Linked DNA regions of Homo sapiens: region 2 is linked to region 1. Evidence: fine-mapped expression QTL. A gene starts in region 1. The other region holds a variant in brackets. All regions are shown on one strand. Distances are between the middles of the regions.

Region 1 (4,388 bases):
GCCCGCCCGCTCACCTTGGGCTTGCTGCCGCCGATGGCACCAGGACGTATGGAGCCAGTCTCCTGGTACCTGCACAGGATCTTGGAGACGCAGCCGTGGGACACGCGCAGCTGGCGCGAGATGACGCAGGGCCGGATGCCGTGGTGGGCCATCTCCACGATCTTGTGGCGGATGTGGTTGGGCAGCGGCCTGCCGTTGATAAAAACACCGCCGAGCTGGTTGACGCGGCCCTGGCCGAGGGGAGTGGACACTGTGGGAAGGTGAAAAAGAGAAGCAAGGGAAAAGTCACTGGAGGAAAATAAAAAGCAAAGAACAGCAGCACGTAATTTCGCAGTCTTCTGTCCTATCCTCATGTTACAGCACCGACGCTGAAACTGCTCGACATCGGACTCCCAGACCCAGACCTCCTTTCAATCACATTTGTTCAAATTATTCAGCAATATAGCGCATGTAATCTTGTGTAAAGACAGCAAATGGGGCAAAATAATTCTCCCCAGAGAAAGCGTCTTCCCCTTCGGGCCCGGGGAGTGGCAACTTAGGAGACCCTGCAGCTGGTAGAGAGTCTAGCTTGCTCTAGAAACAGCCTCCTGGCGAAGAGAAGTTCACCCAGGAGCTGGCCTTGATGAACTCTGCTCCCACCGATCCCTGTCCAATTGGGATCTCTCCCTTTCTAAGGGACTTGGGCCAGCTGATAGCCCTTGGGGTTTCTAGCCAAAAGTGCAGCAGCCAAGGGTCAAAGAGGGTCCAGAAAGGAGGCCCAAGCAGCAGTGCCTGTGTCACCTGTTACATCTTGGGACAGAGACCACAGCAGCGGCAGGGCTGTTCCTGGGCCCCCAGCCCCCATTCTTGCTCTGGGTGTTACATTCTACTCTAGGCTGGGTGTGAAGGGAGTGGGTGGCGGGGGCGATGAGCATCTCTGCTGGGGCGCCCTAACCTGGAAAACCATTGAAAACGGCTCAGGCTTGCAAGACTTCCTGCCTCCCCGGGATTCCCAGAATCTTCAAGTGGACGGAAAGGCGATTCCTAAACAAGTTATAGAAACTTCTAGATGCTATTTGAGATACATAGAATTCTAATTTATTTAATTATTCTAAAAATTCCAATCACAATGGCGCGGCGTTAGCCACCACAACTTTGCAGGGCAAAAAAAAAAAAATACTTCCTGAACTAACATATGTTTCACAAGTGTGGGCGCAGCCGGGACAATTTCGAGACAACTTCGAGACAATTTCGAATGGACAAATTGCGGAGAAGTTGCTTCTGCCGCTCAGAAGCCGGTTCACCTCCTTCTCCACCGCGGCATTTCCAAAACAACAGGGACAAGTCTCCCCGGCTCGCCGCAGGCCTGACCGCCCAGCTCCGCCAGGATTTGCAGAGAGCAGCGCGCTCCATTTGCAGAAAGGAAATCGAGTAGGTCCTCGCCCCCGACTGGTGCTTCTTGGGGTGTGGGGTGCCCAGGGAATGGGCTTCCTGGAAGCACCAAAGGAGCCTGCGGAGCCTGGGGATGGGGTGAGGCAGCCGGTCCCAGGCCCTGGGATCCAGGCGGCGCGCTGAGGCCCTCCCTTACCTTCCAGCGGGAACCCGCTACGCGGGTAGTTCTGCCCCGGGCCCGGCCGCATCATCCTGGGCACAGCGCCGGCCAGCGTGGTCATCCTGGGGGCAGCTTCGCTCGGAAATTATATCCAGGTGAAGGCGAAACGGAAAGGCGAGTGCGGCGCGGATGACCCTCGGGAACTATCCGGAGCGTGGAGAGCCCCTCCCCAAAACGGCTGGAGAGAGAGGGAGGGACGCGGGGAGGGGGGCTGTCGGTTCCTAGTCCAGAGGCCGGAGCTGGAACCCGGGAAAGGGGAGGACGGGGAGGCCCCGGAGTCCAGGATCCCGAGCCCAGGGCGGAAAAGTTTGGTACGAGTCTGGGCAAATGTTCCAGCGACTGGGGTCCCTGAAAAGGGGGCTCAGAGAGCCACGGCGAGCCGGGGAGCCTGGTGAGGCTGGAGCGCGGCCTGCCTGAGTCTCCTCCTGTGGTGACACCGAGTGCGGGGATCCGGGCTCGGGAGCATTTATTAGTTCTTTTACCCAAAGCTTGGTCAGGAGCCCTGAGCTGCGATTGGCCGACGGGTAGACCGTCCCGGGTGGCGGAGACACGCGCTGATTGGGCAACAGCGACCACTTTCTCTTCCCATCTCTGGTGGTGCCGAGGCCTCTGCTGGCCCCGAGGGGGACCCGCGCTGCGCCCCTTGCCCAGGAGAGAAGGTTGGCCCGGTGGAAACTGAGAGAGACAGCCCCAGGGAGATGGCAGTTGCTGAGGGCGGAGAAGTTCCTGTCTCTCTGTCTCTGTCTCTCTGTCTGTGTCACTCTGTGTGTGTGTGTGTGTGTGTGTGTGTGTGTGTGTGTGTGTGTGTGTGTGTCTTTCTCTGATCACTCTTTCCTTGACTTTCTATTTCCCTCTCTGTCTCTTTCTGTGCCTCTGTGTGTGTGTCTCGCTCAGCCTCTATTCCTCTTGTGATTTCCTGTGTCTCTCTCTATGTCTCATTTTTTCTACCTGTAGGTCTCGCTCTCATTTCTCTTGGCTTACTGCCACTGGAGGGGGCACAATTCCAATAAGAAGGCATCTGGGGCCCCAGACATATTTAGCTTTCCTTCCTGTGGTCAGTGCCCCTTGGCCTAGGCTTGTTAAGGGGTCCTCCCGATGGGGCTCCTCCTGGGAGGAGTCCAGGGTGCGCTGATGTTCTTTTGTCTTCTCCGTCCGCAAGCGGGGCTAATGTGAAGCACAGGCAGCCGTCGCTAGGCCCAAGCACTCGTTAGTTGAAGGCTGGGGGTATGGGGGAGGGTGCAGAAAAAAACCTGGCTCCTCTTCTTGGTGTAAAAACCGCTCTGGCAAGCTGCGGTTCTAAATCTCTACATATAGATCCCCGATGCGTCGACAGAGATGTGTCTGTATGTTAAAGTTTTGCCCGGGTTCAGCGTTTGTTCTCAGGAATTTATTATGGCATTCAGACTAAACTGCTGGAAAAATAAAAGGAACGAAGTCTTGGCTAGGAGCTGAAGTGTCCCCAGCAGGATATGACGCCAGGAGTGTTGTAAAGACTGTCTGTCCTTAGAGAAGGTACCATTGTGCATAGCCTTTTATTTATAACTTGGTAAGTGCCAGCGAACTCGCCTCCTTTACACCCCCGAGTGCCAGCCCCGCGCTCTGCACTGCGCTTTATTCGCTCGAGCCTATTCAGGGACTGTCACTCCGGGGCCGCGAGGTATTCAGGGCCTTAATCAATCAAAAGGATGAGAATCGGGCAGGTTTTTCCCTTTGAAATAAAGGAAACAATGACTTCTGGGCTTCAAGTTCCCCCTTTTCCTTTTATGATTTTTGAATTTTTCCTGCCCCTGGAGGGAGTTCTCCACTCCTCTCTCTCTGTCCCCCTCCCCCACCTCCTTTGACAGTTTTGACGTGAACTCGGGCCCCCAACCCTACTTCCCCATTCCCTAATTAAGGCAAACTCAGAAGGCAAGATGTAGGGGGGTGTGGGGTATAGCCGCTCAGCAGTCCACAAGTTGGCCCTTTAAAAACCCACTCACCATTGGGGAAACCAGGCAAGCTTTCAGCCTGCCTGATGCCAGAAGGCTTGGTTGACCCTCAGAGCCACGGAGACAGGTCTCAGGAGACTCCCAGAAATGTCTGGACCCATGAAGGAGGCATGTGCCTTGTTTAACCTGGTTTTACATTAAATGATTCAATTTTTCAAGGGGAAAATTTTCTCATTTTCTTTTTAAGGCGTTGGGGCCACCAAAGCCTGTGTCCGTACGTTTTAAGCCACTTCTCAGCGATAGCATTTTGAGAGCTAGACTTTTTCCAAGTTTTCTTCTTCCCAAAGGTTAAGCAGAGTCGACAGAGCACTTTCTGGGGTCAGCGGTAATTGCTGTGTGAAGGAGGTACCAGAAGTGTAATTTCAAGAAGGCAAAAGTAGGCTCAACTCTCAGCTAAAATAAACTCTTGGACCCCGCGAGCAGTTAAAGAACATCTAGAGCTGAGTCTCATTTGTTTTTGAGCCGGAGGCTTGGTCTCCAAGCCCTCCCAGCGTCCACCCGTCTCTCTCCTGCCGGGAGTTTTCTCTCCTAAGAGCCGGCAGATGCTGGAGGGAAGCGCTTGCTGCAAGATTCCTTCTCCCGGTCCCGTAGATTGCAGAGTCCGCGGGACCGTTGAACGGAGGTACTGCCGGCTGAGCTGGGTCTTAAGTGCCCATGGGTTCATAAACTAGCTGTCACTTGCTATAAACATGTACAAATGGAGGCCACAAGGATGTGGGGGTGCTGGGGACCTAAAGCTCCGGAATCAGGAGGCGACTCATTTTCTCTCCTTTCCGGCCTCTTTCTTTTCTGCCGAGCGCTCTGAGATT
Region 2 (4,388 bases), 30 kb before region 1:
GATAAATTTATTCACAGCCACACTCTTACCCGGAGATTGCACATGATTCTAACTGATAGTTCAAGAAGGTGGGAAAAGTTAAAATGGGAGACAAAAAGTAACTCAAAGTGTTCTCTCTCACCACTGTTCCCCAGCCTTCACTCCTCATAGCACACATTTTTGAGTTGCATGGAAAAGGAGTAAGAAAAAAGAGACTAGAAGGACAAAAGTTGATGAAAATCTGCAAGTCACCAAGGAGGTATGAGGAGGAATACAATTAAAAAGTACTCCATATTTCCCTTTGCACGTCACTGATTGTGAGCTACAAGGTACATCAATATTTTCAGTATTATAAGATGATGGACACTTCCTAATCTTTCCAGATATATGACTTTTAGTCACCCTTTCAAAAGGCATCAAAATATGCTATGTATTTTTTTAAATAAAACACTTTTTCAAAATTATTGCAAAAAAATCTATTCTTTCTGTAAGTGGAAGAGAGTTACTGCTTACTATTGGTAAAAGTATCCTAGCTTATTCTATTACTTGAGTTTCCCCTTATTTTATAATTTACTGTAAATTACATTTTTATTATTATTTGGGACATTTTGTGGTATTTTTTCCCAAGACACCTAAGGAAATTTGCAATGCCACCAACGTGATTCCTGTTTAGTTAAGCAGCTACTGCTCTATTGACTGTCTCTGAGATAGTGACACCCCCTAACCACTCAAACATTGTTCTGCTGTACCATTAAACGAGGCAGAAGGCATAATTTATTGGTTGATCCTACTGAGTAGCTGAAGTTGCTAATATGTTTTTTAAAAATCATATAATTTGTGATTCGTCGTATTATATACGACTTACCCTGGGTGACTGGCAAATTGGAATTTTTTAAGAAAAGGAAAGTTTTCAAGCATCAGTATATGACTGTTTTGTTAAAATGCAGAGCAACTGAGTACTTAGTTCAATAATGGACTTTTTACAAAGGCCATAACTTTTATATTAATAGCTACATTCTGTAACAGTATGTCAAAAAGCTGCATAACAGATCCTTTAGATCTATTACTGTCCCTCCAAACAAAACCTGTTATGCACAAATGCAACATCAAACAACAATCTGTAGCAGCCCATATTGCAAATAATCTGAGCAGAGTCCTGGGGGCCTCTTTAAAGGCTGGTCATGTTTTGCAATTACAAACACATATTCGACCTATCTGCAGACATGTATGTGCGTGCCTGGGTTCCTCCTCCCTTACCCATACACCCTTGGGGGAATCTGGAAATAGTTTTTCAACCGGTTTGCTCACACTTTCAAAGAAGTGCTTGGCTTCTGTTGTTTTTTTGCTTTTTATCATGACCAATAGAAGTGGAATCCAAAAATATCCATCCTAACCACACTAATAGAAAGCAATCAAATATCCAATCAACCCCCCCAGCCCTACCTACTATCCGCCTGCTCTCTAGGTAACATATGCAACTCGCTGTGGCTATGCGGTTACCACGGAGGGCTTTCCGGTTGCCTCTCCCCAAGGGTGTTTCAATAACCAGGCACAACGGGGAAAGCAAAGAGCTGAGTTTCCTACCTCACTCTGAATCTCCTCGTTTCCACGGGGGGTTGGGGGGCAGAGGGGAGTGTTCGCCAAATCCTTCATATTATTTGAGCACAGCTCTTGCAGGCTATTTTATTTTTTCTCAACGAGAACTTTCCTAGATGAGTAAGCGTGTTTGTCTTTAAGAGTTGTTCCAGGAGAGATCATGCATATTTCAGCCAGCT[C/A]CAGATGAAACGAGTTAAGCGATTCTCCAGCATGCTAATGTTTGAAAATGCCATATTTGTGCCATATTCAGACGTTTTACTAGGAACCCGACTTCAAGGCAGTCTCCGAGCCCCCAGCCCTCTTCCACCCCCTCCTACTCCTTTATGTATATATGTTGCATAATTATGGAGCAGTGAGTATTTATCACCTTTTCTGGGCAGTAGGCAGAAAGAAATACAATACCATTACTTCCAGTTACTGCTTTTCCCAAGATAATTAGGTAACACAGTGGAGGAGCCTTGGTAAGCCTAACGCTGTTCAAGTTAAGTGATTGACATGGCCCTGTCTGGCTGCTCTATTAACTGTTTCATTTTGTTGCTATTTGCAGTTTTCTTGGCTAATACTCCGAACAAATACGGACTGTTTCTTTAGCCCCTTTTTTCTCTTTGACCTTCTCCTGCCCATTTTCTTTGACTCACTTCAAACTGCCTTGAAAAGGCCTGTTGAATGCGCACAGTCCATCAGAGGCCCAGGTTCGTCCCTACCCTTGCCCTGAATGCCTTACTTCAAAGATGGCCCGCATTCTTTAATTGCCCTTTGAATTAATATCAAAGGGTCACAATGCGAGTGCCAAAAGAGAAAGGGGCTTTAATGAAGCAAAGAGCTGCCATTCATTTGCAGATAAGCACGTTTTTATGCCTGAACGGTCACCATGGCTAAAGGCTTCGTGAAGAGGAGGCTGGCCTGTGACTTACTTTTCCTTAAGTAGTGATTAGTGCAAACAAACAAGAGTAAACAAATTTTTTTAAAAGTCTACAAACAACGACAACATAAAATAAATAATAAGGCTAAATTCTCAAGCTGCACATTTCTCTCCCACCTTTCCATAAAAAAAAAAAAAAGTCGTACTTAATCAGCAAATCCCTTCACCATTTTTAATACCATATTTCAACATTTAAATTCCAAGGGCAAAGTTCAACAATATGCCGAGATAAAGTATTTTCAGTTTGAAATTGTGTGCCATGGGTAGCACAGAGGGAAAATGTGATGACTTTAACATAGAAGGAAAAAATGCCACCTTCACAAAAAATGTGCTAGTGAGCTCAAGACATAATTACTTTTGAAATGAACATTTGTGCTTAAACACTTAATTCTTTTAGTAGAAAGAATTTAGTTCGAGCCTAAAATAGTAAAACTGTATCTCTCTATCTACACATTTAGATAATATTTTTCCATTTCTTACAAAGAAATCACCATGCAGTGGCCACTGTCTGCATTGTCCCCTTGCAACACTGTAGCTGAGGCTATAGAATGAGCAAACCAACAGCACCAGAGGTCAACACAAGGTAAAATACAGCTCAAATCATAAATGATTACAGAGTGAAATAGTAAGCCCTGTTTCCCCTCTTCATCATTCTCCTTGCAGAGAGGTTGATGATTAAAGAAGGATTTCAGTCCTGGTGAATTATCATCTTAGCTCAAGCTCCGACTAGCATCCTTGGTGCTCAGCTACAAACTGAACCGTTGGCCTCCTGGTAGACATAACATTCAGACCATTGTCAGGGCTTCTCTCCCCTCACTGGATGCTTTGGTAAACAGAGTTTATGTTACCCTCAATGACGTACAAGGGAGGTCCTTGTTCAGATGTTTCCATCGGTCTCCAAAAGTGAGTTGCCAATTTTGCATTCGTGCAATAAAATTGTCGCTGCTAAGTTAAAAGAAAGAGAAAAAGAGAGAGGTTTCCCTTATCTTCAGGGAAATCAAAAGCATCTTCTCCTCACTGGCCTTATTTTCCATGAGCTTATCCATCTGGTTCAGAGTTGCCAAAATAGAGTGAAAAAGGGCAGCAAATAAATGTCAGAGAGCCAGCCAATCTGCATAAATCTCCAACTCCTTCCAGAGAAACTCCTTCCTGGCCTGCTGGGCCTTCCAATCTTGTGACATGAGCCAACAGACATCAGAACAATGTGAAAATCAAAAGACTTATTTTGCCCAAATCCAAACCCTTAAAAGCAGTTTCTCCCATACTAGTCTTTCACTAGATATGCAGCGGTGTGCTGCTTTGCAATAAAGCAATGTTATCCCAGTAACTAGGTCCCTTATGTCCTAGATATAGAATTAGTTCTGTCTATTTTAGACTGACCACAGGAAGATCCACTTAATCCTTGTTAAACTGCACTCTGAGACAGCAAGAAGGCAAATCAATCAGCTACCAAACCTTGTTTCAATGAGTACAAAAGGAATCAACAGATTCTAAGTAAATAATACTTTATATTTGCTCAGGACTTCTGATGTGTTCGCGGTCACTAACACAACAATCCTTTGAGGTAGTGGAGCAAATATTATCGCCTACATTGAAAAGGACTCCAGCTCAGAACACATAGTGACTTTTCCATGATCACAACTATTCAGAGAGTGAACCAGGACAAATCTCTTAACCCCAAAGCCTTTCATAAAGCCATGGTTATATCTGGTGTAGAACTAGACCTGGGCAGCCTGATGTCCTATGGATTCTTTACCAAAATCCGTAAGTGGAATAAACTTCAAGACCTCTGCAAATCCAGCTCAACAAGACACAAGAAAAATGTTTGGAACACATATTGCAATGCTTCCTCAGGATGCTATGGTCATGTAAATATAACTGTGACAAGTTC

Direction of the effects. Alleles are on the strand shown, and positions count from the first base shown. SD is a standard deviation of normalised expression in the study named.
For the expression in subcutaneous fat of the gene that starts at base 2,035 in region 1, allele A in region 2 goes with a lower level than allele C (moderate effect, 0.44 SD a copy in TwinsUK).

Evidence for each region.
Region 2: its variant is fine-mapped to the expression of PAX3 in subcutaneous fat (TwinsUK, PIP 0.95).

What each region holds. Positions count from the first base shown.
Region 1 is chr2:222,296,964-222,301,351 of GRCh38, forward strand. PAX3 (paired box 3) reads right to left here and starts at 2,035. Exons shown (of 9, transcript NM_181458.4): 1 at 1,568-2,035; 2 at 15-250. The coding sequence starts at 1,652. CCDC140 (CCDC140 long non-coding RNA) reads left to right here and starts at 1,184. Exons shown (of 2, transcript NR_161172.1): 1 at 1,184-1,410. RefSeq lists a promoter at 1,635-2,666 and cis regulatory regions at 2,053-2,090, 2,661-3,215.
Region 2 is chr2:222,267,035-222,271,422 of GRCh38, forward strand. All of the region lies in intron 4 of PAX3 (paired box 3), which reads right to left. Among named protein-coding and RNA genes, the nearest start is that of CCDC140, 29 kb to the right of the region's middle. The variant C/A (reference allele first, on the strand shown) is at 1,755.